7 linked regions of the Homo sapiens genome follow. The protein of the gene in region 6 purifies or fractionates together with the protein of the main gene of each other region. This does not show direct contact. Each region holds a gene or a part of one and is shown on either strand. Other genes may lie near its edges.

Region 1 (3,231 bases), on a different chromosome or scaffold from region 6:
AAATAAGCAGAGAAAAAAAAATGTGAATAAACTACTGAAAACACTTGGTGTTTTGTGTTCAATGAGACCTTCCTGCAACCTGCTCCCCATGGGTGGCAGTTAACAGGCCCATCAGATATTGTTGAAAGAAAGCAATATATCCATGAATGAAGGCTAAAATTGCAATCCTTTACCCTTTGAGGCATATTTCAGTTGAAAACAAAAAGAAAAGAAAATTTGGCTTAGAGGGTCACAGAGCTCCCATATGACCAAGTCTCAAGCACATTAAATCATGGTTGTTTACTGGCCAAGGGCGTCCACTAGACAACTCTATCCCTTGCGCTGAAGCTCAATCGTGCTGAGGGAGAGCTTTCTTAATATTACTGTGTTGCTCTTAGCCCTTCTCTGGGTTAGGATCTGTCAGCATTTCTATGATAAACTCCTATTCTCAAAGGTTTTTAATTTGACCATAAAAATGTGCCCCAGGCTGAAGTTTGCTATACAGGGCTGTACCAAAGAGTGAAGGTTTACTTCCTTCTCTTTCCAACTTCTTCCCCATTCTCCAAGGAAAAGAACAACAAAAAAATCTGGTATGGTCCCTCCTTAATAGTGATTTCAGAATTTTGGAAAGCACCAAGATCCAAGATGGTAGTTTTAATGTAGTTACTCATTCGCACACATTTTTTAAATTTAATGGGTCACCTGGCATATATTGTAGATAACATATCTTTTCTATAATTTGTAAGTCAATAATTTTTTTAACTGCTACATGATATTTTTTTTTGCCCAAAGATTTTAAAAGACTTGAAGTTGGTCAGTTCAAAACTCAGATTTTTCTACACATTGTCTGCCATGTCCATTAGGAGTTTGGGGAAAATACTCTCACACAGACCCTTACTTTGCATGCAGTTTAGAGGGTAAGATACGTGCTTCTTTTGGGGATAAAGATTTCCTTACTTAATTGTCAAATTTCATGGAGCCATTCTAGTCTGTTGGGGAAAATAGTGATTAAAAGCACTTCCAAAATTAACATTTTTTGACAATTCAGATATGAAAAGAAGCAGGGGAAAATAATACACTTTACTCTTTTCTTGCTTAAAGGCAAACAAATCAATGAAACTTGAGGACACACTAAACATTTGATAACTGCAAATGTGCTTTAAAAATTGGTTCAATGGTGCTTACACATGAAACGGTAACAAATGGGGTTCCTAGGACGTCAGAAGGAATCTTTAGTTTGTATGTAATTACACACTAGAGGAGGAGGTGCTTTTAAGCCAGTCTTTTATTTTTAATCATCTCAAATATGCAACCATACATGCAGTAACATTAAGGGTCGTAAACTGGTGGGAAACAGGAACTTCAGTGGAGAGGCTTAAATGCCTCTGGTTAGAGTGGGGGTTTTTGTTTGTTTGTTTATTGTTGGGTTTCAACACTGAGCATCATTTCTGTGATCAAGTTTCTAACTGGCATGTGTTTTGATCATGAGGTTTACCATATCTTGCCCATACAGACAAATGAGAGATCTAGTTTCATTTTGTTCCCTAAAGAAAGAACACTCTCTAAAATTAAATCATACCTGTAAATTTCTTCAGCATTTGTTTCTGTTCAATGAAATTGAGACCCTTAATGTTGCTTTAATGTAAAATTGAATATTTTGTCTGTGATATACTTTAATAATTTAAAGTAAGTAATAGTTCTAAAGTCTTCACTGTTGCTACTAAGAGAAAATAGAATTTTAAAGGTGATGATAAAGATGCTATAATGTCAGTTCACTCCAGTCCAATCAAATGTAGTAAGAAAAAGTCCTTGAATAGTTCTCTAGGGACAATTTCTCACTTGCCATTGACATTAATCTTTGGTGTATTCTCAGAAAAAATAAAAAGAAATTGAAACTGGTCCAAGGTTATAGTCATATCCTCGATAACTTTTGAAAAAAAATTTTATTAGGAAATTAATACTAGCCTTTTTCATTCTGGCTGAAAGAAAATTATTAAAGGATTAGTTGAGTGTGAAATTCAACAGTATTTTGCTCATACATACTAAAAAGGTGCGTAGGGACTTGGCGCATTTAAACAAGTTTCTGAAAGGTTTCAATTTGACTCAAGAAAAAAATTCAATATTTCTTTTGAAAATACTGAATTTATCACTTGCTGCATGGATCAGATGGCATAGGTTAATCTTTGATTTTCAGAATCCTAATGAAATAACTTTCAAACAATTTGTGTCCTTAATTAAAGGTGGAATGAGATCCAATTTTTCCCCCTAATCCTTCAGTTTAAGCTGATACATGTAGGTTAATGTGGAATGAAATCATCTGTGATATATTATGTTCATTTATCAACTGAGCTTTTTTGATGTTGCCTGTTTTTATGTAAAACATGTTCTTAAAGTTAATAAAATAATAGTACTTGGTGTATGAACTACTACATAATACCTTAGCTGAAGGGTACGCTCCTCAGTTCATTTGCCATATTGGAGTAAAATTTCACCTTAGTTCAATTCACAATTGACACATTCAGTTCACGAAGGAATAGCCCAGCTGTGTTCTTAGGGGGAATTCTCTCTATGCAAGGCTTTAAAAATTAGTCATGCGGTCAGAGTGTAGCTTTCCCACATGTCCTCCATAGCACAGTGTGTATTTCATGAGCATAATTCAAAAACAGCTATTTCAAAAATGTCCCTTGTCATATATTACGTTCCTGCCTGGGCCACTGACTTGGATAAATACAAATAAACCAAATACCATTCAGCCCTATTTTATCCTTCAACCTACGTGCACAGGCTCTCCAGAGAAGGGTGTTGTTTTATCCACTAACCTGTAATTAGCTGCCACTTTTGTAGCAATTTCCCATTAGGCATTCCATGTGTAATATTGGCCTTAGAGAAAATTGCAAAACTGTACAATGGATTTAAGTTCTTTCCTGTCGAGCTTTTCAATGCTAGGAGATTGAAAAGTCAGCCAGCAAAAGTGACTGCAGGTTCCCTGGTGTCCTATGAAGGTGCCAGAATATCTCCAAGTGCCTGTAAAATTAGCAGTCACCTTCCCTGCCATCCACAGGCTGCTGCTGCAGCTGCTGTTCTCCCTTTTGCTGTACTGTACTGTCGTGAAGTCACTGGGTCCTTTCTAGACTCTCTGGCAACTGCTGGGAAACAATAGCTAAAGTGATTACTTCCTAAAGACCATTACCTTGTTTTACGAGGCTGGCAGCTCTGCCAAAAACCTGCCATCGAAAACCTGGGCCTTGGCGT
Region 2 (3,500 bases), on a different chromosome or scaffold from region 6:
TTGGAAGGTTTTAAGCCCCAGCAAGGCCAGATGAGCATTTCTGAAAAGCGTCTATAGTAGAAATGTAAAGAATGGAACCTTTAGTATTAGAGGTTGACTATCCCTTATCTGAAATGCTTGGGACCAGAAGTGTTTCAGATTTCAGATTGTTTGGGATTTTGAAATATTCTCATTATACCCAGTGGTTCAGCGTCCCTAATCCAAAAGTCCAAAATGCTCTAATGAGCCTTTCCTTTGTGCATCATGTCGTTGCTCAGAAAGTAGTTTTGGGTTTTTGGACTAGAGATATTCAGCTTGTATTATAATTGTCAAAGGAGTGATGAGTCCCAAGCCTTCCTTAGGACTATTCACTCATAGTTAATAGTGAATAGTTCCCACTATTCACTCTTCCACCCTCCTACACCCTGGCCAAATTAATTGCTTCCTGGAATCAGTATTCCCGTAGCATTCTTCACATCCTTTGTTAATTATTGTCTGTCCTAACATGGAAATGTGAGCTACAGGAGAACAAGAAGCAGGCCAGTTACTCATCTCCCCATCACCAGCACCTCTTGTGATGTGTGGTGGGTAGCAGGCCCACGCAAGCATCTGTGAGGGGAAGTGGAGAAGGAAGGAAGATGTGCATGTGCCACATGGGAAGTGCTGAACGTACTGGGGCTTTCAAACATGTTGCCTCTTCTGTCCTTCATAAAAATCCTATGTGGTGGGTAGTGTTAGCCATGTTTAACAGGTAAGGAAACTAGTCAGAAAGGTTGAGTCATCTTTAGAAGGTTCCATGCCTAATAGGTGGCGGAGCCAGGATTTGAGACAAATAGACTGATTCGAAAGGCTTTTCCATGGAACTGTAAGGTCTTCTGTGAATTGTTAACCATAAAGATTCTCTCATTTTGAAATTTCAGAAGACATGAAGTAGAAACAATCCAGGAAGGCTTTGGGAAGCTATTTGTGTGCGAGGATCAAAGTGGTAAGCAAGCCGGCCCTATTTTAGAAACTGGTTTTCCTGGGGGGTTTTCCTCTTAGTTTTTTCTGTTGCTCGTAAATAGACCTTTTCTCCAAATTTCACCCACTGGTCTTTTAAGAGCTCCAAGGTTTTTCCACCATGACTGAAGTGGCAGAAGTTCTGCCGTGATGAGTCAGGTGGAGATGAGCCGTGGAAAGGAGGGGCGTAGACGGTGGTGGCAGCAGTGCGTGTTTATGTGTAAGATGCACTGCTTCTGTAAGTCGGAGGCCCTGATTACTCATAATGAAAACCTGCATGGAAATTTGGAGTGATGTGCCAGCAAACTTATCGGTCTAGATCTGAAAAATACACTGAGGAGAAAGTACACCCGGCAACAAAGCTCGCCTTATCTGACAGCAGAAGAGCAGAGAAATCAAAAGTTTTTGAGGATTCGGTGTACACAGCCACCAGCCACAAACAGTCTTGCTGGATTATCTCGTGATCGTCAGCAGTTGTGATTTTCCCCCTTTTTACTTACATTCTTGATGGATGGAGCATTTTATATTTTTAGGTAATTGTTAAACTCAAATATACTGACTGTCATTAAAACACAAAAATTCAATATGTTAATTGTCTGTCTGCAGCCAGACTAGGAAAGGGTACATTGTTTTCAAAACTTAATAATTGAATTAAAATGTAAAAAAAACAAGGGCCTTAATGTGAAGGTGAGGGATCTGCATCTCCTAGCTACCCCTGTCTCCTATCTAGACATCTAGAGTCTCTAGATCCTGGGGTACTGGGGAGAATGGACAATGTTGCTTTCCTGTGCAAGATCCTCAGATGACATATTTTAGCCCCCAGGGCGCTCATGCCTCCATCTTCCTCCAGCCTCATGGGCATTTCCTCCCCTATGTGTACCTTTACCTTTCACCAGGCAAAGCCACCTGTGGTTCCCTTGGATTCCTCCTGCTCTGTCTTGTCTCTGTAGTGTTGCATGTACTGCAGCCCAGCCAGCTGATGTGAATCTTGCCCTGCTACTTATTATCTGTCTGACATTGAGCATGTTACTTAACCCTCTGTGCCTCGGTTTTCTCATCTGTAGAATGGAGATAATAATAGTACCTAACTCCTAGGGTTGATGTCAATATTGAGTTAATACATTAAAAGTGTTTTCTTTTGTGTGTGTGGCAGAATAAGCACCCAAATTATAGCTGTTATTGAGTACCTAGTTACTGTTCTACTGAAAGGAATGGAAAATAAATACTCGTCCCTCGAAATGTCCTTCATCCTTCCTATCTCTTCCCAGCATTCCCTATAAAACTTTCTTCGTAGAACGCCCTTCCTGGCCTCCATCTCACCTGGCTCTGATGCCTGTCATCTATACTGCGTCTCTACCTCTGCAAACATCCTGTCTGCTGCTCAGCATACTGGACTAGGCTGATGAATTGACCTGTTCTCTTCCTGCACAAGACCTTAAGCTCCATGAGGCAGGGCCATACTTGTTAAATTGATATCTTCCATGTCTAGAAGGGTTCTAGCACACACTAGACAGATGCTAGCCATAAGTCTATAATTGTCTGGGTGACCTTAGGCAAATGACTTGACCTCTCAATGCCTCAGTTTTCTCATTTGTTTGTAAAAAGGATTGATGACACTGTCTAGTTCAGAAGATGATACGAGAATTGGAAGAGGAAACTAGAGGCAGTGTCGTGTAGGGGTTAAGAGCTTAGCCTCTGGATCCAAGCCAGCTGATGTGAATCCTGCTCTGCTACTTATCTCTATGACGTTGAGCATGTTACTTGACCGTCTGTGCCTCAGTTTTCTCATCTGTAAAATGGGGATAATAATAGTACCTACCTCCTATGGTTGATGTAAATATTGAGTTAATACATAAAAATAACTTCTTTATTTTTGTGTATGTGACAGAATAAACACCCAAATTTTAGCTGTTATTAAGTACCTAGTTACTGTTCTACTGAATGGAATGGAAAATAAATACTCTATAAAGTTATTCTGCACTTGTGTATCAGGAATTTGGACATCTTGAGGCACTTTTCAGGCAGGTGTGATGGCTCTAAATGGAGGTTATAGGAAAGTTAAGTTTTAAATCCCCAATAATTTTCAGGGACAGTGAGTATTTCTCTTACAACTTAACTTTGAATGACTTTATTATTGTCCCCTAGTCCATAGATGTTTTCATCCAAAGAAGATAGAGGTCTGTGATCCAAGAAATTTGAAGCAGTGACTTAGAGCAGAAATAGGGATCATGATACTTTGAATAATGCATAAAGAAGGAAACCTTTCTAAACAAAAGGGACACAAATGTTGCTTTTTTGGCAACGGGATGCATACGGTCTGTGGAATACCATTTGCTTCAGGTCCAGGGATGTAGAAAACTCCCCTTGGTTTAGTCTTCACACTAAAGGGCCAGGACAAGCCCTTGGAAGGGAGGTTTTAGTGTGAAGTGGTTAGCCGTTACCTGTGCTTCGAGTTCTGTTTGTGTCTTAGTTTGGATTCCCCCAAAAGTAGACCCCAAGACAAGGATTCAGAGGTAGACGTT
Region 3 (3,500 bases), on a different chromosome or scaffold from region 6:
CCAGCTGAGAAGGTTTCCTATCAGCCTGCCCTGCAGGTTTCAGGTGAAGACACCTAAGGCCAGCTGCTCAGGGAGTTGCTTGTGGTCACGCAGGCTAAGTGTGGTGGACGAGGGACTTAAACCAGATCTGAATGGTTTCAAGCTGGTGTTCATGTGATCTTCATGATGCTGTTTGAAAAGCAGCTGAATGCTGGGTGAGGGGCCTGTCGTGCCAGACCCCTTTAAATTTCATTAGGGATGGCACCGGGTTCAAGAGACTGGAGAGGAGACCTAGAGCCAGCAAACAAAAGACAGAGGGTTTATTAGGGGAATTTATTTACAGAGTGGTCCCATGGCGGCCTGGGCAGGAGAAGCGCTGCTGCTTGCTTTCAGAAAGCGTGCAGTTTATATAGCATTTTCGCTTAACACCCTCCCCCAAACAACCACCACCCAGCAACCTTAACACCAATCAAAGAGCCTCAATACCCTGTATGGCCTGCTTTCCATGGGACAGGCTGGGGGTTTAGATGTTCCTCATAGATAAGGAATGAATCTCTGGGTTGGCCACTCCCGGATTCCTTAGCTCAGAACCCCGAACATACATTCAGGTGCACCTGCCATGTGGGGCCATTCTCAGTTATTGCTGTCAGGGGCATCTGTCAGTGGGCTGCGTTTCTGCGACACGGTGGCATGTCGGATGGACATTGCCAAGAGAATCTGGTTAGGAGGTAGAGGCAGCTGATGTCCATTTCCTTCTAGACTCATTCTGTGGTTTTGCGGATTTTCCTTCTTGTCTTTCGGAGATTGTTGCTTTTTAATGTAGTCTTATGTATATTTAGATTGGGTTCTTCAGTATTCACTTATTATATGATAATTTGGCAGATGACACATTTTGTTACCAATATTTCCAAGCTGAAAGCGCGTTTCTGTAAAAGACAGGAGCTAGATGTTACTAGTAGCTTAAAAGAGCTGTTGGAGGAGCCTGAAGGAAGTGACTCATAAGGGAGAGAAGCAGTGGGGGCAGCTGCAGGAACCTTCAAAACAAAACCTGCAGCCCTGTTGCTACCACCTCTTGTTTTTTGCCTAAACCAGGCGTTTTATTTTGTTAAGACGAAAATCCCTTATTTTGCATCCGTTTTTCCCCCTGTATACCCTGCAGGTGTTTATAGTTTGTGAGTCTCACTCTGGCTTGTTTTAACCACTGATTTCGTTTCGTCTTATGTTTCTCTACACTCTAGCAAACCTGTGTCCCCCTCCCCGCCCCCATCCCAATCCTCCAGCCTTCACGTCCTTAGCTTAAGTGATTGAGTCTGGCAAAGCGGATGAGGCTTAGCTATTTTTAAAATCCAGGGTTTGAGGTTCTGATCTGGTGCTTAGCTACATAATTCCTTCCCTTTGTTAAGTACCTTTCTCCGAGAAACAAAATGCACTCTACAGATGTTAATCTCTAATCTTTGCAGCATCTGTTATTTTTATTCAGGGGTACAAGTGCTTTGTGTGTGCTGCGGTGAGCCCTGGCCTTCTGGAAGCTCTGTGCTTCTGAGGGGCTGAGGGGGATTTGGGGGTCCCTTTTCATAGTGTGGGCTGTCTTTCCCAAGATGCAGTGATGACCCATCAGAGGCAGGGTTGGTATTGTCCGTGGGGTCCAGTCCCTCTATCTTCCAGGGCTTTTCTGGTCACAAGAGACCATGGCCAGAAGTGGGTATCGTGCTTGTGTCTGGGGCCTGGGGAGGGAAGGAAAACAAATACCACCCCCTGCAGAAGAGATCGTTAATGGATTCTTTGAGTAACCAGCCAGATAGCTTGTTTGTGTGCGAGGTTGGGACATTTTCCGTAAAGAGCAGACTAAATATAGGCTCGAGGGTGGGGACCAGGGCCCGAGAGGGGGCTGCCACTGCTTGCTCCAGTATTGTTTCTTCCATTGGTAACCAGAACTTGCCACCAGTCCCAAACAGGTGGCCACCCTGAGCTCTCTGGGAACAGATTGGTGTTTTTGTTTAACCAGGGGCTCATTTGCAAATTTCACACTTCTCCCGCTGTTTGATGGGGATTGTCTTTTTTTGGGCTGCAGTGTTGGAGTATTTGTACAGTGTTTCTACACAAGCAACTGTCTAATCTTTAAAACTGCTCATGCCGTCTGGTTGTCATTAGCATCATGGTTAGAAGCTTTTTATTTGCCTTTTTTTTTTTTTTTTTTTTTAAGGGTGGGAAAACACTTTTCATGGTTCTGGGAGAAGAATTTCAAATAATGTCCATGTTCACAAATGATTTATGTTTGGTCTTGGAGAAATGTCAGCATTCAACAGGCTCTAGTAAATACAACCATGTTGATTTCCAGCTTAGGACGAAGCTACTGTTACCCTGTTCTCACTCAGATAATAGTCTGAAAGGCAGAACCGTACCTTTAGAAAGTACATTTAGCTTCAATTCAATAAGTTTTAGTTTTAGCCAATAGTGACTTGTAGTATGGAGGATACTTGAAAGAAAGAAGTTAAACATTTTTTAAAAAATTTATGAACACCTGCAACAAATAGCCACAAGACCTACCCTTTTTTCAGGAAAGAGTTTTCACTTCTTAAATGTCACCTTGGGGGCATGCCCACTGTGTGATGGTACCCTTCAGCAGGATTGGTATTGTCGGAAGTGCTGGCTAGCTTATGTAATGAAAAAGAAATTGATTTGGAAAGAGCTGATTGCCCTGAATTTCCATCCTGTTTGTGCGTTGAGCTGCCCTTTTCAGTGGGGGAGAATCCAGCATATTTTCCAGGGAGGGCGTTTCCGGAAGCCTGTCTGCACCCCCTTTGTTGTTGTTTTCGAAGGTCTGGGGTGCTGCTGTGAGCCGGGATCGCGTATCTGCTCCTGTTCTGACGAGACTGCTCCTGCTGGAAGTTCAGCCTGGTGAACCTGATTTGGGAGGGGATGGTGTGATTGGCGGGGAACAGCATTGTGTTAATTTTAGCTTCAACAATCAAGCCTGGGTCTCTGAGTGTCCATGTAGTACTTGAAGTTTGGGTTTGGAATTGGTGGGATTGAGACCACTTCAAACTCTTTTATTTCTTGGAACTTGTTAGTATTTATTTATTTATTTTTTGAGACAGGGTCTCACTCTGTTGCTTAGGCTGAAGTGCAGTGGCACTATTGGGGCTCATTTGTAGCCTCAACCTCCCAGACTCAAGTAATCCTCCCACCTCAGCCCCCGCCAAGTAGCTGGGACTCCAGATGTGCACCATGCCTGGCTAATTCATTGGATTTTCAGTAGAGACGGGGTTTCACCATGTTGCCTGGGCTGGTCTTGACATTCTGGACTCAAGCAATCCACCTGCCTCAGCCTCCCAGAGTGCTGGGATTACAGGCATGAGCCACTGTGCCTGGCCTAGTTTTTAATTTTTGAGACAGTCTCTGTCAATCAGGCTGAAGTACAGTGGCACGATCGTGGCTCACTGAAGCCTTGCTTTCCTGAAGCGATCCTCCTGCCTTGGCCTCCCAAATAGCTGGGACCACAGGCACGCACCACCATGCCC
Region 4 (2,534 bases), on a different chromosome or scaffold from region 6:
GTGTGCCTGTGTCCTCATCTGATTCACCTGCCATTTGCTGAGCCTCTGCTGTGTACCAGGCGTGGTGCTCAGCCCTAGAGGCAGTTGACTTACCCTCTGCAGCCCTCCCTGCCGCCTCACCCTTCAGCATTCACTGGGCACCTTCCCGGAGCGGACACTGACTCCCATGCACGATTTTTTGGAATCTTCCTCCTGACTGTGAGGTGGGTGTTCATTCATTTCCTCCATAAACACCAACTTCTCGAAGCGTGCCAGGCTCTGGGCTGGATGCTGGGGATAAGCGGGAACCCTTAGGATCCCCTCTGTCCACGAGAAGAAGCTGAGGCTCTGAGCGGATGCACAGGTCACCCATGGCAGGTGCCGTGCAGTGGTGTCAGGAACCCGTCCGGGTCTTCACACAAGGTTCTCTCCAGTCCATCTCGTGGGCGGCTCATGTTAGAGCGACATTCAAATGGAAGGTTTGGAAAGGAATGCCTCTGTCTTGTGAAGTAGGACATGGCAGACTTGGCGACGACAAGGGTCCAGGAGAACTGAGACGCAGGATGGAAGACAGAGAAGACCCCCCGGAGCTCCTCGCTCTGCTTGGTGGCTTCAGGAGTGTGGCCCTCCCCAGGACTCCACTTCATCCTGGGCTTGCACCCTCCTTGAGCCAATGCACTGAACTGCCTTTGAAAGGAAATTGCATGTTCTGACCATTTTAGGATACCTTTACTTTAAGGACCACACAGTCCCAGAGGACACATCCCTCGGGAACTCTGCCCCTCTGACAATGAGGGCCACAGAGAAGGTGGTGTTTCCATGGTAGATGCTCCTGTTCTGGTGATACCAAACCTGCCCACCCCTCTGAGTCGTCTTTGCTCATGGACTTGCAGCAGAGCCACGTAGTTTGGCATTTTGATTCAGAAAGTGGGGAGCAGAGACCCAGCCAAATCCAAACTTTTTTTTTGGTTTTGTTTTGTTTTGTTTTTTACAAGATATAACATAACCCAGGAAACAGACCCAGCTGAGGTTATTCTCAGTGGATTACAGTATACTTTTGTGTGTGTAAAAGCACAAAGTGCATGTGTACTCACTTCTGGCCATATAACATTTACACAGGGAAATGGATCATTGATTTTTTTTTAATCAACGTGAATGAAGAATGTTTGTTTATATATCACTATAAAATCCAGTTGACCTGGACAGTATTATATGTACATATCTATTCTAATTAAATTTAACAATCAAAGGATTGGATTACTTTTTTCCCCCTTGTAAAGAGGTTCGAGAATGTGGTCAATTGTATAGATAGCGTGTTAAAGCCAAAACCCAGCTCTGAGGGCCTTACCCATTACTTGGATATTTGCTACGATCCATCTCCCTTTGTGAGTCAAATGTTAAGAGAAGAAACTTGTATTTGCAGCTAGAGGTTACTGTCACATCATAGATTTAACATTTACCATCTTCAAAGTACAAATCTTACATGTCCTTCAAAAGGAGGTCTTAATACAGTTCCTAGTTCCTTACTTCTGTTTTAAACTTTGGGTACCAAACCAAAAAGAAGAAAAAAGAAAGGAAAAGATCTTCTTTGAAGAAAAGTATGTCTCTGGATCCCTGGAAAATAATGATGTCCAAAGCAAATTGTGAAGATCAAATGTGTGTTAAGAAAAGGTGTCGAGGGGAGGGACAAAACCAGAAACGGTGGAAGGACCAGTGTAATAGTCACAGACTTGCATCCTGGCTCTGCTTACATTTCCTGGTACTCTCGAATGTACGGGCGTTCACATAGTCATTGTGAAGTTGTTGGGGTTTTTTTGGTTTTGTTTTTAATTTAGCTCTTCTCTGAGGACGAAGCTGTTGGTGGTGGTGGTGGTGGGGGTGGTGGTGTGGGATACATGGTGGTCAAGTTGTCAGCCCTGATCAGTTTGGACTCTGTAACTCATAGGTGCATTCTTTTTTTCTTTGGTGTCTCACAAATTACCCAATTGTTGAATAAAACTATAAATATGTTAATACCAGCTTTTTCCAATAAAATAACAAATGTTACATCAAAAACGAGGTCCAGAATGCTGTTTGTTTTTAGTGAGTCCAACCTCATGGAGGTGGAGCCCATCAGGAGGCAATACAGTGGGTGGGGATGCCCATGGGCTTTGCACTGGGAAGCTGGGTTCACGTCAAGGGTTTGCTCCCTCTAGCTCCTAATGCAGCTCTTAACTTTCCCTAGCTCTGAATTCATCACTGAGGAAATGGAGCTAATAAGACGACCTATCTTGTAGGTTTGTGGTGGGAGAGGAAGGACAAGATTAACTTGGATAGTGCAAAACACAGTGCTTGGCACATGACACTCCGTAATGATAGTTGTCTTGTTTTGTCTGGCAGCAGGTGTGCATAGCCCATCATGATCTCCACACACACTCACACTCTCCATGAGAATATGATACAGATGAGGAAACTGATTCAGAGAGGTTAAAGAATTAGCTCGCAATCACACAGGTAGCACATAACTCCTCATCCAGTGCTCCCCCACAGACGTGCCTGAGGGTCCCAGAGAATGG
Region 5 (4,293 bases), on a different chromosome or scaffold from region 6:
TGCCCACCTCTGCAGCAGGGGAAAGAAGTCCTCTCACCCCAGTTTGAGGGGAGAGGGGAGGTCCAGTGTGGGGACCAACACGAAGGTCACAGCAGACAGTGGAGTCATGCCTGAGAGCCAAGGAGAGTCCCTACCAGGTCACCTGTCTCCCAGTAGCACCACTTACCTGGGGTCGAAGGGCCCCAGAAAGTTTCCATGGTTCCTGGCTTCAGTAAGGGGCTGAAGTCCAAACAAGGAAAGATGACTCAGAACCGGGGGGCCTCCTGGGCTCTTAAGTCCAAATCATGAAGAGTTCAGCCTCTGAAGTCCATGGGCTGGGGAGGCGAGCACGGCCTGCTGCTGTTCCCTGATCCTCCTCCTCCCAGTCTCAGTCTGGAAAAGCCCCGCACCACCTTTGCTGAGAACAAGGCCACACCATGACAGGATGGCCTGCCAGGAGCCCCAAAACCCTATGTTGGGGTGAGGGGAAGGAGAAGCAACAAGACTGGCCTCAGACATGATGCAGGTGAGAAATGGTCTGGTTTTATTGAGAAGCTGTTGGTCATTTGATGGAAAGACACATACGGTACAAAATTACAGGTGGTTTAGTTCATTACATGATACAAATCATTAGAGTCTTTACAAGTCATTAGAGTCTTTGGATTTTTTAAACTCCCATTTACTGTGTACCAAATCAATATAATCACAGAATCAAAGTCACTTCTTTATATGTGAACTCTTCGCATTTACACGAATCCACACATAGAGAAGCTGTTCCAAGACCCCCCAACACCATTAGTGTCTGCAGCCCACCAGGAAGGCACCACGGACTTTGTGGAGAGAAAGATGCTTTGGGGGTTCAATGGGTCAGTATCTTGGGCAGGAAGCACAGGGTGACTCCCGTCTTGTGTGCGTGCGCACAGCCACCAACACACACTCTCAGGACTTCCCGTTTCACATACAGGGAACTTTTAAGGCAAGAGGAGAAAATGCTAGGAAGTAACGGGGGATCAGAACTCCTCCACCTCTCAGGCTCCAGCAGTCACATTCCCAGCTCCGTTCTCTTGTTGAACCTTGGTAGGCCCAGAAACATCTTCCCCCTCCTCACCTCTGCCCTCCCGCTCCCTCTGGTCAGGCCTGGGTACCCAGGAACCCAGTCACACACCTGCCCCCTGTCCCCTCTGCTGCTGGACGCAGTGCCCGGGGCAGAAGTGAGCCTTCTCACCCTGGAGCCTCAGTCCTTCATAAGGGCCCGAGGGAAGTGGCGGGGTGGGGCCAGGGATGTTCTGGGCACACAATGGGGAGGCAGGGCCCCCAGAAGCATCCCCCACCCCCATCTCTGACAGCGCCGCGTGTGCAGTTACTGCCCTTCCCGGCCTTGGGTGCCATCTGCGGGCCGACCCACACTAAGGTGCCACTCCTGGGGCCTTCCAGGAGCGCATCGGGAGTCCTAAGGCGGGTGGGCGGGCAGGCGTTCTTGGGAGGTGAGTCTGCTGGTCAGGGAGGCAAGAAAAGAAGATAGAAGACGGAGGCCAGCCCGCCCTGGCCCACCACTCTGGAGACCGCACCTCCTGCCTGCCAAGTGCTGGCCCGGGGTCAGCGGGGCTCACTGCCTTGGTGACCACGTCACTGCACATCCCTCTTTCCCAGCCACAAGCTGACATTAGTCCGCACCGAGAAGCAAGAGTGAACAGGGCCTGGGCCCAAATCCACCTGCTCAAGTCAGGAACTCTGGCTCGTTCTACTCCACTGTAAGTCAAACCGATGGTAAAAAGCACGACACACACGTCCCCCAGGACTTTCCCAAGATGGTGCTACAGGAGGCCGCTGCTGGGTGGATGGCTCAGCCACCACGAAGTGCCAGGTCCCACCCACGCTGCCCGTCCGCCACCATTCCCAGAGCGTCCCCACTACACGGCCCAGGCGTTTCCCCTCAGGGCAGCAGCAGTGCTGGCCTCTCACCCAGGCCATAGTGACACCAGCGGACCCAAAAACAAACTTCTCAGTGAAACAGGTTTTAAAAAGAAAGCCGCTGTGCTGGGAAGCGGGTTGAGTTAAAGGGCAAGGCAGAGGTGACAGCTCTTCATCCAGGGACAGGTGCCACAGGGTTCCCTCAAAATCGGCTAAGGACAGGGAGAGCCCTGGAGGAGTGCCTCCCCCCAGGGGCCGGGCCCTCTGCCAGCCCGGCCGCAGCCTTCGTGTCCCTCGCCAACTGGGGAGAGAAAGACAACCTGTCCTCGCAGCCAGGGCTGGGACAGGCCCACCATGGAGACTACTCTGTTGGCGCCTTCAAGTCCCTAGAGAACCAGAGCCTTCCGCAGCGCTTTCTAGATGTTGACTAAATGTGAGAACTAGAAACCAGCTCCAAGGGTGGCTGTGTGAATCTTGACCCAGGACTCCTGTCCCTAGATTGGTGGCCTTCCACACATAGACGCTAACCCCCATCCCACAAACCTGGCACCAAAGGCTCTGGGAGCATAAGTGCCCCAGCCAGGAGGTGGAGGCCACCCCGGAAGCTTCCGGCTGTCCCGCCCACACCATGCACGGTGGGCCTGGGGGCGTGGCTGCTGTGAGGGTCTGGAGACTAACCAGCACACTCCCTGCACCAGCCCAGCCGCCAGGCCCCAGCCCCACACTCTGAGAGTCTGGGAGTTGCCGAGAAGTTAAAATGACCCAAAGACCTTCCTAGAAACCAAAAGTGCACCAAATAAAGTAGCAATGCCTCTTCCTTTGTCACCGACTACAGAAGCACATCATTCTCCCAGGTTTTTGCTCTCATCCAAGTTAAGAGTAAGGCCACTGTGGATCCGCAATAGAGGGATGTGAGGAGGGGGCTTTATCCTCTGCCGTCCCCAGGACCCTCCACCTGGGCAGGAGGCCAGCAGCTCTGCAATGGCCAGAGAGGCTGCAACGTGCAAGGCAGGCCCTGGGCCCCCCCACACAGGCAGACGACGATTGCGGCTCGCAAATGATTTCGGATTTTGAAAAAATAAATATAAATAAATACATTCCAAGCCTTCTGTGAAGGGAATAAACGGCAAACATAAGAGACTTTCCAGGTGTCTAAAGATGCCAAAACATCCACAGAGAAACCGCTAAGAAACCCTGGCAGAGGAGGGATGGGGGGGCTCAGGCCCTCGGCCCCCGTCTGGGGCACCAGGACCATCTGCCAGAGCCCAGGGCCCTCCAGAGGCACTTGTGGAACCTGGGACCAGGGTGGGAGGCTGGGGGGTCCCCCAGAGGCACTTTGCGGGAAACTGGGACCAGGGTGGGAGGCTGGGGGGCTTGCGGAGTGAGCCAGGACATCCTGGGTGGGTGGGGGGGCTTGCCCTCCAGTGGGGAGGAAAGGCACTGGTTACAATTATGGTTTAGGTTAAGACATTAGTGGGGCCACCAGAATGGAAATGATAGAAAGAGCAACATAAGGCCCCAGGCACAGGCACACAGCAAGATCACCAGGCGCTGCACCACCCAGGGTCTCAGTCCTAGCATCCCCCAGCCCCTGCGGGCACCCAGAACCTTCCATCCACCTGAGGAGGCACAGTTGAGGCCCCCACTTTACCCGGGTACAGAAGAAACAAAGCTTCCAGAGGCCCAGGGAGGTCACCAGCCCTGTGTCGTGCAAAAAGCATTCATCGCCCTGCCCCTGGGGAAGGGGCCACCGGGCTCCTGGCTCCTCAGGGCTGTCACTGGCAGGGCTCAAAAGGGGCCGGGCACCCCCAGAAAAGTTCGCCCTAAGGCAGCGGCTCAGCTGGCCCAGGATTTCCGGTTCTCAGGGTTCTTGTGGCTCCTGTCGGCCTTGGCCAGGGCAGCTGTCAGCGAGGCCAGGTTGGTGGCGGAGCCCGAGAGGGTGGCGCTCCGGCGGGCCTCGGGGGCACCCAGCCGGAGTCCTGTGCTGCGCCGCCGCACAGGGCCCGTGGCCCTGCGGACCCGGCTGGGCCTGACCAGCAGCCCGTAGCCAGGGTTACACCTGAAGTACTGCTTCCCGCCGATGGAACCGTCATTCTTACCTGCGGGGGAAGGAGAGGGTGATATGGAGGGCAGCCGAGCTGCAGACGGCCCCCTGCACCTCCCTTACCTCTGCAGAGGCCATGTGCCCACACTGCCACCCCCCCGCACAGGCCCTACACAGCCAGCACTCGGACACTGGCCATTGTCTGGCAGGGACTGGCTAAATGAATGTGGCCAGGGCCTGGGGTGACCGCCTCCCAGGACAGTGAGCAGTGGTGACCAAGGATGCACAGCCCCAGTCCTGCAGCCTCAGGTAGGAGGTGACAGGCCCTGGGGGCCCTGGGGAGTGCCTTGTGGAAGCAT
Region 6 (3,084 bases):
TAATATTTTGATTCAATAAACAGATTATGACTGTACACATATCCTTCCAATAATAAAGGATATTCAGAGTTAAAACTCAAGTATATTTCCAGGTTCCTTAAATTGTTATAGGATTTTATTTTGTTTTCTTCTTATTCCAAGAGCAGTGGCATACTGTAATGAGGTATGATTATTGTCGGATATTTTCTAGTCTCATGGTATGCAACTACCACAAATAACTAAAGGCATGAAAACTTGTATTATTTCATATCTTCCTATTATGCATATGCCATCTTTCTGAACTAGTGGTTTTGGCAGGATTTAGGAAACCTTTACAAATGACACTACGATGTAGGCAGCTCAATAATTATTACGTATTTTAGTGGAGTTATGCAAATGTTTGCTCATTTTGTTGATCTTTTGGATTCAGCTACGTTTGGTACTTTTTTTTTTTTTTTGCAGTTGCAAGATTTAATAGAGTGAAAACAGAGCTCCCCTAAAATGGGAGGGGACCCAAAGGGGGTTGCCGTTGCCAGCGGTACATTTTTTATTCTGTATTGCTATTTATAATCACATTATGTTGGCCGGGCACAGTGGCTCACGGCTGTAATCCCAACACTTTGTGAGGCCGAGGCGGGCGGAACACAAGGTCAGGAGATCGAGACCATTGTGGCCAACATGGTTGAAACTCCGTCTCTACTGAAAATACAAAAATTAGCTGGGCGTGGTGGCATGCACCTGTAGTCTCAGCTACTCTAGAGGCTGAGGCAGGAAAATCACTTGAACCCGGGAGGTGGAGGTTGCAGTGAGCCAAGATTGCGCCACTGCACTCCAGCCTGGGCGACAGAGCGAGACTCAGTCTCAAAAATAATAAGAAGGCCAGGTGCAGTGGCTCACACCTGGAATCCTAGCACTTTGGGAGGCCGAGGCGGGCGGATTGCCTGAGTTCAGGAGTTTGAGACCAGCCTGGGCAACACGGTGAAACCCCGTCTCTACTAAAATACAAAAAATTAGCTGGATGTGGTGATGTGCACCTGTAGTCCCAGCTACTCAGGAGGCTGAGGCAGGAGAATTGTTGGAACCCAGGAGGCAGAGGTTGCAGTGAACTGAGATCGTGCCACTGCACTCCACCCTGGGCAACAGAGCAAGACTCCGTCTCCAAAATGATGATAATAATAATAATAATGAAGAGAAGGAGGAGGAGGAGGAAGGAAGAAGAATTGCATTACATTATGTTTCCTTGTGGGGCCGGGTATAGTGGCTCATGCCTGTAATCCTAGCACTTTGGGAGGCCAAGGCAGTCAGATCAGTTGAGGCCAGGGGTTCGAGACCAGCCTGGCCAACATGGTGAAACCCCGTCTCTACTAAAAATACAAAAATTAGCCAGGCATGGTGATATGTGCCTGTAATCCCAGCTAGTTGGGAGACTGAGGCAGGAGAATCGCTTGAACCCAGGACGCAGAGGTTGCAGAGAGCCGGGATCATACCACTGCACCCCAGCCTAGGCGATAGTGATACCCTGTCTCAAAAAAAAAAAATTGCATTATGTTTCTTTGCTTTGTGAATTAAGCTATGGAAATGAAGAAAAATATCCTTTGATGTATTGTATTTTAGGATTTTCATGGCCATGCTTGTCAGTTCTGTTGTTACAGAATGTCACCCTTAGTTACTTTGGGAAATGGTAATTAATTAACGTTGCAGGTGTCAAAGTAATTTCCTCTCTCTTATTTTTCAGCTATACTGACTTCTGTTGAAACCATTCAAAGCTAAAGACATGGACCTTCAGCAGTGTAAGAAGATATTGTACAGTATATTTTAAATCTATGAAATTCATAGTTCTGATGCTTTTGGTCACAGAGCATCATTTTATCACTTCTGGAAAATGTTTATTCCAAAACAGCTTTAATGGCCCATATGTACACTTCGTAATCTCAAGGTTATTATTCTGACACCAGCTTGCTGCTATGATTTCAGAGCACATAAGTAAAGGTGCTTTTTAATGTGCAGTCTATTTCCAGAGCTTACTTAGTTGCTGATTTCCAGATTTCGATGTTTCTTAAGTCTAGGTGAATTTATATATATATTTTTTTGCTTTTCATTTTCTAAAGTTAGTTATTATTTCCATTGAAGCTTGTTTTCTTTTTTTTCTTCCCATTTTAGCTACTGCAGTGCTTTTGTTTCACACTTGATTTGTAAAAATTTTATATATATGTATTTAAAATGTGCCATTTTATTGCTAAGTGAAGTATGTCCTGTTTTCTGCTATAATTCTTTCTCGGTCAGATTGCAATGTCAGCAGTTACTGCCACACTCCTGTCAGCTTAAACACAAATGTTACTGCTTATCTTTTCTTAAAAAAAAAAAAAACAAAGTGTAGGTATTTTGAAGTACTGGGCTTATATTTCATTGGAATACATGTGTACAGCAATAAGCAGGTTTCCAAATCCGGTACTTAGTTTGTGTACAAATGTAATTATGTTCATTGTGTATATATTATACAATGAGCACATGTAATGTATTAAAGGCTACTTACTATTGTTTAAATGCAAATGTTCATATCTCATTTCTTTTTTTATCATGTTAAATAAATGTTGATGTTCTTAAATCAGTGTTAGAATTTTTGTTCTTTCCATCCAAAATTGAAAGTCTTAAGACTCAAGAGACCTCTAGAAGAAAAGGTACTCTGTTAATTTTATAATCCTAGACAACATCTTAAAAGATCCTTGTCGGTCCAACCCTCCCATGTCAAAGTTGAGGACCTTGAGGCTCAAAGAGATCAATTGAGTTGGCCACAATTTAATGACAGAATTTTGACCAGACTATAGTTTTTTCTGACTTTTTCTCTAAGTACATTACATTAGCTCATTACCACTAGAGGAGTTTAGTTTTGTGAAGTCTTTTACCACGTTTCTATTTGCTTCCATGTTTCAGAAAGTAACTTCAAGCATCAGTAGTCCTGCTCTGTTTAGGGATTGGACTTTGAGAGAGGTGTGTAAGGCAGCTGTTTGTCTGACATGGGTAGCTAGAAACCGTTTCATCGTAAGTAGGACCCTCAGAGATCATTTTCTCTTACAATACATTCTTTGCAGATGTTCACGCTCTTCA
Region 7 (2,399 bases), on a different chromosome or scaffold from region 6:
GGTCTACGACGACGGGGCCACAGCGCTGCCGGCAACGCGAGTGGTGGGCTGTGTACAGTTCACCACCGCTGGGGATCCGGCGCCCTGCCGCCCGCTGAGGGCCCATTTCTTGGGCGGCACCATGATCATCGCCATCGGGGGCGTCATCGTCGCCTCGGTCCTCGTCTTCATCGTTCTGCTCATGATCCGCTATAAGGTGTATGGCGACGGGGACAGCCGCCGCGTCAAGGGCTCCAGGTCGCTCCCGCGGGTCAGCCACGTGTGCTCGCAGACCAACGGCGCAGGCACAGGCGCGGCACAGGCCCCGGCCCTGCCGGCCCAGGACCACTACGAGGCGCTGCGCGAGGTGGAGTCCCAGGCTGCCCCCGCCGTCGCCGTCGAGGCCAAGGCCATGGAGGCCGAGACGGCATCCGCGGAGCCGGAGGTGGTCCTTGGACGTTCTCTGGGCGGCTCGGCCACCTCGCTGTGCCTGCTGCCATCCGAGGAAACTTCCGGGGAGGAGTCTCGGGCCGCGGTGGGCCCTCGAAGGAGCCGATCCGGCGCCCTGGAGCCACCAACCTCGGCGCCCCCTACTCTAGCTCTAGTTCCTGGGGGAGCCGCGGCCCGGCCGAGGCCGCAGCAGCGCTATTCGTTCGACGGGGACTACGGGGCACTATTCCAGAGCCACAGTTACCCGCGCCGCGCCCGGCGGACAAAGCGCCACCGGTCCACGCCGCACCTGGACGGGGCTGGAGGGGGCGCGGCCGGGGAGGATGGAGACCTGGGGCTGGGCTCCGCCAGGGCGTGCCTGGCTTTCACCAGCACCGAGTGGATGCTGGAGAGTACCGTGTGAGCGGCGGGCGGGCGCCGGGACGCCTGGGTGCCGCAGACCAAACGCCCAGCCGCACGGACGCTGGGGCGGGACTGGGAGAAAGCGCAGCGCCAAGACATTGGACCAGAGTGGAGACGCGCCCTTGTCCCCGGGAGGGGGCGGGGCAGCCTCGGGCTGCGGCTCGAGGCCACGCCCCCGTGCCCAGGGCGGGGTTCGGGGACCGGCTGCCGGCCTCCCTTCCCCTATGGACTCCTCGACCCCCCTCCTACCCCTCCCCTCGCGCGCTCGCGGACCTCGCTGGAGCCGGTGCCTTACACAGCGAAGCGCGGGGAGGGGCAGGGCCCCCTGACACTGCAGCACTGAGACACGAGCCCCCTCCCCCAGCCCGTCACCCGGGGCCGGGGCGAGGGGCCCATTTCTTGTATCTGGCTGGACTAGATCCTATTCTGTCCCGCGGCGGCCTCCAAAGCCTCCCACCCCACCCCACGCACATTCCTGGTCCGGTCGGGTCTGGCTTGGGGTCCCCCTTTCTCTGTTTCCCTCGTTTGTCTCTATCCCGCCCTCTTGTCGTCTCTCTGTAGTGCCTGTCTTTCCCTATTTGCCTCTCCTTTCTCTCTGTCCTGTCGTCTCTTGTCCCTCGGCCCTCCCTGGTTTTGTCTAGTCTCCCTGTCTCTCCTGATTTCTTCTCTTTACTCATTCTCCCGGGCAGGTCCCACTGGAAGGACCAGACTCTCCCAAATAAATCCCCACACGAACAAAATCCAAAACCAAATCCCCCTCCCTACCGGAGCCGGGACCCTCCGCCGCAGCAGAATTAAACTTTTTTCTGTGTCTGAGGCCCTGCTGACCTGTGTGTGTGTCTGTATGTGTGTCCGCGTGTAGTGTGTGTGTGTGTGTGTGTGTGTGTGTGTGTGTGTGTGTGTTGGGGGAGGGTGACCTAGATTGCAGCATAAGGACTCTAAGTGAGACTGAAGGAAGATGGGAAGATGACTAACTGGGGCCGGAGGAGACTGGCAGACAGGCTTTTATCCTCTGAGAGACTTAGAGGTGGGGAATAATCACAAAAATAAAATGATCATAATAGCTAACGCTTAGTGAATACTTACTTACTATGTGCCAAGCACTTAAGTCATTTAATTCTCACAACACCAGGACATATCGGTATTATTATCCTGTTTTCCAGATGAGGGAATTTTGGCCCAGAAAAGTTAAATAACTGGCCCAAGGTGGTAAAACTGGGATTTAAAAAGGCAGGCAGGCCAACTTCTGAGTCTCTACTATAGGGGTGAAAAGACAGCTTCCCCTTCACTCTCTGAAATTTCACTGGAATGGGCTGACAATAGATTAACAAGAGAAAAGGAATATGGAGGGTATTTAACATGCACTAGGAAAATCACAGGAAAGTGATTACCCAATAACCCAGTGAGGTTTATATACTTATATACCTTTCTTCACAGGAGGGGAGATGGGGAAAGGAAGGCAATTTTGAGGGGTAATAAATGATTTTGGGGAAAATAAATGGGTCCAGGAGATAGAATTTAGCTTGTAAATGTCTCTGGAATTTGAGACTGACAGACAGATAATTTCT

What was found.
Region 1: the proteins of PLEKHA5 (region 6) and DCLK1 purify together in Homo sapiens (affinity purification with mass spectrometry, with the first as the bait; one large-scale study listed by BioGRID). This does not show direct contact.
Region 2: the proteins of PLEKHA5 (region 6) and ZBTB21 purify together in Homo sapiens (affinity purification with mass spectrometry, with the first as the bait; one large-scale study listed by BioGRID). This does not show direct contact.
Region 3: the proteins of PLEKHA5 (region 6) and AGAP1 purify together in Homo sapiens (affinity purification with mass spectrometry, with the first as the bait; one large-scale study listed by BioGRID). This does not show direct contact.
Region 4: the proteins of PLEKHA5 (region 6) and PPP2R2C purify together in Homo sapiens (co-immunoprecipitation; one large-scale study listed by IntAct). This does not show direct contact.
Region 5: the proteins of PLEKHA5 (region 6) and KIF13B purify together in Homo sapiens (affinity purification with mass spectrometry, with the first as the bait; one large-scale study listed by BioGRID). This does not show direct contact.
Region 7: the proteins of PLEKHA5 (region 6) and LRFN1 purify together in Homo sapiens (affinity purification with mass spectrometry, with the first as the bait; one large-scale study listed by BioGRID). This does not show direct contact.

What each region holds. Positions count from the first base shown.
Region 1 is NC_000013.11:35,768,152-35,771,382, reverse strand, and holds the end of DCLK1 (serine/threonine-protein kinase DCLK1), read left to right. Parts: 3' UTR 1-2,731; downstream 2,732-3,231.
Region 2 is NC_000021.9:42,000,361-42,003,860, reverse strand, and holds part of ZBTB21 (zinc finger and BTB domain-containing protein 21), read left to right. Parts: intron 1-899; 5' UTR 900-964; exon of another isoform or gene 965-1,511; intron 1,512-3,500. UniProt on the Homo sapiens protein: Acts as a transcription repressor.
Region 3 is NC_000002.12:235,500,543-235,504,042, forward strand, and holds part of AGAP1 (arf-GAP with GTPase, ANK repeat and PH domain-containing protein 1), read left to right. Parts: intron 1-3,500. UniProt on the Homo sapiens protein: GTPase-activating protein for ARF1 and, to a lesser extent, ARF5. Directly and specifically regulates the adapter protein 3 (AP-3)-dependent trafficking of proteins in the endosomal-lysosomal system.
Region 4 is NC_000004.12:6,320,081-6,322,614, reverse strand, and holds the end of PPP2R2C (protein phosphatase 2, regulatory subunit B, gamma), read left to right. Parts: 3' UTR 1-2,034; downstream 2,035-2,534. UniProt on the Homo sapiens protein: The B regulatory subunit might modulate substrate selectivity and catalytic activity, and might also direct the localization of the catalytic enzyme to a particular subcellular compartment.
Region 5 is NC_000008.11:29,066,778-29,071,070, forward strand, and holds the end of KIF13B (kinesin-like protein KIF13B), read right to left. Parts: intron 3,990-4,293; coding exon 3,727-3,989; 3' UTR 501-3,726; downstream 1-500. UniProt on the Homo sapiens protein: Involved in reorganization of the cortical cytoskeleton. Regulates axon formation by promoting the formation of extra axons. May be functionally important for the intracellular trafficking of MAGUKs and associated protein complexes.
Region 6 is NC_000012.12:19,373,817-19,376,900, forward strand, and holds the end of PLEKHA5 (pleckstrin homology domain-containing family A member 5), read left to right. Parts: intron 1-1,714; coding exon of another isoform or gene 1,715-1,749; 3' UTR 1,750-2,584; downstream 2,585-3,084.
Region 7 is NC_000019.10:39,306,066-39,308,464, reverse strand, and holds the end of LRFN1 (leucine-rich repeat and fibronectin type III domain-containing protein 1 precursor), read left to right. Parts: coding exon 1-832; 3' UTR 833-1,899; downstream 1,900-2,399. UniProt on the Homo sapiens protein: Promotes neurite outgrowth in hippocampal neurons. Involved in the regulation and maintenance of excitatory synapses. Induces the clustering of excitatory postsynaptic proteins, including DLG4, DLGAP1, GRIA1 and GRIN1.